2 separate regions of the Homo sapiens genome follow, and region 1 is linked to region 2. A link means that fine-mapping ties the variant in region 2 to the expression of a gene that starts in the linked region. Tissue or cell type: whole blood. Region 2 holds a variant in brackets; the other region holds the start of a gene. All regions are shown on one strand. Distances are between the middles of the regions.

Region 1 (2,769 bases), 320 kb before region 2:
ATAAAAACTGGCTGCTATGAACATAACATGAGAAAAACCTTATGGTTGGAGGCTTTTTCTTATACTAGATTTTTAAAAATTATGACAATTACTTGTAAGGTGTTCTAGATGTTATCTGCAAAGAGAACCAGAGTAGCAATACTTAGGCAACCCCAAAGACCTTTGAGAAGTCACAGGTCAAGGGGGAACATCATATGGGGATCAGGCAAATCCACTTATGGTTGCTGGGCGCCATCCTGCTAAGTAATGGCCTTCACTCTAGTGCTGCCAGCCATGTAACAAAAAATAAAATAAAATAGGCATGCTCTAAACAAATAAGTTTACAAAATAATTGAGTCAGTTTCTTTGCTGAAGCCTGTGTTCCCTGTTTCCTATTGCAAAAGCCATTTATCAAGCATTCACAGCTTGTGAAAATTGCTTTATGAAATAGAAGACCACAAGACTGGGTTGCCTGAAATCCTTCTGACCACAACTGGGGGCAACAGGAACTCAAGAGGGCCTGGCTTCCAAGACGATGGAGCCACCAGCTGGCAAGCTGAATCCATCATGCCACTTAGAAAGTGCAAGTGTTCAGGAATCAAACAGGACTCAGAGGTAATCCACAGGCCACTTGCTGAGTCCTGCCACATCTGCACCCGATACCATTTGAAACGTAGATCCTGATCCCTTTGGAGGAAATGGGTGAAGGAGAAGTATGAAGTGCAGGTGCAGTAGCAGAGTGGAACTTGAGTCACCCATTCCCCAAACTCCCCCAGACACCAACACTGCTTCCATCTCCTTCCCTTCAAACTCTCTGCCATGGGACCACCAAAATTGAAATATTTTGGCAAATTTGTGTAATAACCAATGCTTCAGAAGAAAAAAGGAAAATTCCATCTAATTAATATCCAGAAAAAAAGGGAGGTAAATGGTAAATGTGGGCATTACTTCTTGTCGCACAGATCAGTTCTGTGGGTTCTCGGAAAGGGAGGGCACCCTCTCTGTGTATGTGTGTATGCCCGAGAAAGTCCCTGAAGGCAGCTTTCTGTAATTCAACCCTCCTGAAACACTGAACAGCTAGTGAAAAGATTTCTCAGCAGATGCCGAACAAGAGGGGACATCTGATGCCTGTTTTATTCAGTCACCAGTAATCTCTCTTGCATCACTCACTTTTGTTAGAATTGACTAATAGGCAACATGCCTTCACTTGAGCCCAGCAGATATAAGCACCATCCTTACAGGCTGGCTTCCTGACTGAGAGCAGGGAGCAGCAGGCATGGGGCATGCCGGGTGCCAGTTCAAAGCCCTGCTGTGGAAGAATTGGCTCTGCAGACTCAGGAACCCGGTGAGTGCTTGCCTTGGTTTTCCATAGGGTTCCAGTGAGGTCTGGAGCAAGATCAGGGTCTATTCTTTCCTGCCTGCCTCTGCCTCCTGGCAGGTAAAAACACTCATGCTGCAGGGAATTTGGGGAGGTTGGATTATTTTAAATCAAAACCCGTCCCAAGGGCCAAAGTAGCTGAACACTTTAATGACCAGGATGAAATCAAGGCTGAAGAATTTATCAGAAAAGGGCAAATTTAGAAAAATTCTAAAAACAAACAAACAAAAAAGCAGGTGGAATTGAACTATAATTTGTGTTCTAAGCATTCGTTGTAAAAACTGAACAGTGAATTCTCAGGTTTAAGGAACAAAGCATTTGCTGCATTTAATGCATAAGCAGAATGCTACAGGTACTGACTCCGAAGCACAAGACTGCACAGTGTGCCTCACCAGAGCAGGGTATGACACATCCACTCTGTTATTCTGTAGGGTCACCATCTTTAGTGTTAATTCACATCTATTTAGAACTGTATTCAAATTACATTAGCAAGGTTTTCCTAAGGAGATTGGAATTGTTCAAATGAAACTTGTGTGAATACTTATGCAAATATCCTGTAAGTGTACGTTTTTGTGAAATAGAAATCAATTGCTTGTTATTATGACTAACTTTATTCCTGATGCCACTATATAAACATTAATACCTATAAATGTCATTTTCAGGAGAAGTAGATGTGCAGTAATTTACCTGCATCGTTTCTGATTTTAAGGTCTACAGTTAACCTATGGGAATTTTCTGCTGACAAATGCTTTGGTTTGAAGAGATTCAGTAATTGACATTGAATTACATTTTGCTGAATCCTCCGAGCCAGAATATTCTATCTCTCTGTCTTGAAATAAAATACAAGTTAAAGGAGATGTTTTCTTTTTTATGTGATCTTTAGGATCAAAATAATTTCAGTTGAAAGTTTGTACAAAAGTTTTAAGTTGGCCGGGCGCGGTGGCTCACGCCTGTAATCCCAGCACTTTGGGAGGCCGAGGCGGGCGGATCACGAGGTCAGGAGATCGAGACCATCCTGGCTAACACAGTGAAACCCCGTCTCTACTAAAAAAACACAAAAAAATTAGCCGGGTGTGGTGGCGGACGTCTGTAGTCCCAGCTACGCGGGAGGCTGAGGCAGGAGAATGGCGTGAACCCGGGAGGCGGAGCTTGCAGTGAGCCGAGATCGCGCCACTGCACTCCAGCCTGGGCGACAGAGCGAGACTCCGTCTCAAAAAAAAAAAAAAAAAAAAAAAAAAAAAAAAAAAAAAGTTTTAAGTTCAGGAATAAAGGAGTGAGACAGTCTTCATTGATTGTTAGTGTGTTCGTGTCTGTGTAGGTAGTTTTACATTTATAAACAGTGTATTTCATTGACATGTAAGTTTGTTTTAGGGAATTAGCCTATTTTCCCATGAAAGAGTGTTATGGGTGGA
Region 2 (2,769 bases):
CTGCATAAATAGAGGAAAATGTGTGAACCCTATGAAAGAGAGGATAAAAGATAAGAAGAAAATGCCAGGCTGAGCTGCAGTGTGTTACAAAAACGGAGCTAGCTAAGATGAAGATAGAAATATGAATTTTCATTGGATGCAGTGAATAACATTATTGATTGATTACAAACCTCTCTCCTTCACTTAGAATTATTGACTTAAAGAACAAACATGCAGTATTCTCTAAGAACACACAGGGAAAAGGTGACACAGTAAAACTGATCAGAGGGGAAAAGCTAGAGGAATCGGGTATAGAAAAAAAGCAGATGAATAAGAAAGTAAGAAGGAATGATGTAAGAAGAAAATGAATCGAACACAAAACAAAACAACAAAATAATTCTGTACCAATAGATTGGAAGAGTTTGTCATGATTCTATCAAAATTTATGAATTAGGTATTATGGCAGTAGCAATGATTGATGCACAAATTTGATGAATTTTCTAAAGTTCAAGGATAAAGAAAAAAGTTTTTACAAAGCTATGAGTCAAAGCACATTAGTTTCAAAGGAATAAAAATAAGACTGGCCTCTGACATTTTTTATAATTTCTCTTGAGACTTCATCTTTGACCCAGGGATTATTTCAAAACATGTTGTTTAAATTCTAAGTTTTTGAGATTTTCCTGTGGTCTTTCTGTTACTGATTTCTGGTTTGGTTCATCACGGTCAGTGACCATACTCTGCATTATTTCAATTATTTTAAATTGGTTGAAGTTCATTTTATGGTCAGGATATTGTTTATCTTGAAGCTTCCATGGGTGATTAAAAAAAAGTATTCTACTCTTGTTGTTAGAAATGTACATTATATGTCAATTAGATCCTGTTGGTTGATTGTGTGGTTTTGTTCTTCCATATCTTCACTGATCATTGAAGATTACTGAACCTTCACTGAAGATCATCACTGACACATTTCGTTTGCTGAGAGGCGAGTAGTAAAGTCTCCAAATTGTGGCTTTGTTTCTTTTTTCAGTTTCATCAGTTTTTTCTTCATGTATTTTGAAGCTCTGAGGTACACGTCAAATGTGTGTACACATTTGGCATGGTCACATATTTCTGGTGGATTGAGCCTTTTATCATTTGGGATGATTATATTTTCCTGGTAGATTAATCCTTTGCATATATGTAGTGTTCCTCTTTGTCACTAGTAAATGTAGTTGCTGTGAAATCTATTTTATCTGATCTCAACATAGTCACTCCTTCTCTTTTTCTTTTGATTAATGTTTACATAATATATCTTTCCCGTTATTTTATTTCCAACCTATCTCATTGTGTAAAGTGAGTTTTGTGTAGAGTGTATATTGTTAGGTCATATTTTTTAAGCTGCACTGCCTATCTCTGCCTTTTAATTGGTGTTTGGGAACCATTGCATTTAAGGTAATTACTAATATATTTGGGTGTAAGTCTGACATTATCATTTGTTTTATGTTTCCTCTGTTTCTCTTTTCTTGCTTTCCATGAGTTACTTGAGC[AT/A]TTTTTTTGATTCTATTATGATTTATTTATAGTATTTTTAAGTATATACATTCATTTAGTTTTCTTAGTGGTTCTTCTAGGTGTTATAATACATATATATGACTTATCACAGTCTACTGATATTGTTATTTACTACCTTGGGTGAAGTGTAGAAAGCTTACTTCAATTTACTTTTACCCTGTTTACCTTTAAAATATTATTGTCTTAAGTGTTTCCTATACACACCACATCAGATGGTGTTCTAATTCTTAGTTAAGTCACCAAATATGACTTAGGAAACTCATGAGATGAACAATAGTCTATTATATTTACTTCTATTTTTAACGTATCTTGATGTTCATCTTTCCTTTTGTAAGTTCTAAGCCTTTTCCTGTTATGATTTCCTTTGTGCTTATGTAACTTCTTTTTGCTATTCTTTAAGAGTAGGTTTGCTAATGAAAAATTTGCTTATTTTTTTCAACTGATACGATCTTTATTTCACCTTGATTCTTGAAAGATATTTTCACTGAATATAGAATTCATGGTTGACAATTAAAGAAAAGCTCAGCACTTGAAAAATGTGCTACTTCCTTTTGGCTTCCATGGTTTCAAATTAGAAATCCATTACTATTCTAGTTGGTATTTTCTTCCTTCTCTCTTTGTGACGGCTTTAAAGAATTTTTTTTGTTGACTTATTAGTTTCTAGAAATTTAATTATGATGTATCTTGGTGTGGCTTTCTTTGGTTTTATCCTATTTGGGATTTATTTAGCTCTTGGATTTTTAGGTTTATGGTTTTTTTTTGCCAAACTTGGGAAGTTTTCAGCTGTTATGTCTTTGAACACTTTTTCAGCCCCACTCTCTCTTTCCCTTTTCTCTAAGATCAGGTAATAAGATTATTAGCTCTTGTATTGTTTTCCCAGAGGTCTCTTTCCTGAGTCTCATTTTTTAAAAAGTTTATTTCTCTATGTTATTTAGATTGGATAAGTTTTATTTTTTTCATCTCGAGTCCATGCAGTCTCTTCTTTTTTAGCTGCACTCAACTGTGGAGCATGTCCAGTGGGTTTTAATTTCTGTCATTGTATATTTTAGTTCTAGAATTTTCATTCATTTTTTAATCATTTATATTTTCTAATGAGATTTTAATTTGTTTTTCATATTTAAGGAAAATTCAAAATTACTTTTTGAAGCATCTTTATGATACATATTGTCAGATAATTTCAACATTCAGTTCATTTTGACATTACCATTTTTTATTGCCTTTTTCAACTGGTAATATTCTGGC

What was found. PIP is the estimated chance that this variant, and not a neighbour inherited with it, causes the effect. A credible set is the group of variants that fine-mapping cannot tell apart.
Region 1: it holds the start of ABCA13, and the variant in region 2 is the best candidate, but not a certain one, in a credible set for the expression of ABCA13 in whole blood (TOPMed, PIP 0.67).

What each region holds. Positions count from the first base shown.
Region 1 is chr7:48,170,229-48,172,997 of GRCh38, forward strand. It overlaps ABCA13 (ATP binding cassette subfamily A member 13), which reads left to right and starts at 1,230. Exons shown (of 62, transcript NM_152701.5): 1 at 1,230-1,324. The coding sequence starts at 1,256.
Region 2 is chr7:48,494,690-48,497,458 of GRCh38, forward strand. All of the region lies in intron 48 of ABCA13 (ATP binding cassette subfamily A member 13), which reads left to right. Among named protein-coding and RNA genes, the nearest start is that of LINC02838, 210 kb to the right of the region's middle. The variant AT/A (reference allele first, on the strand shown) is at 1,506.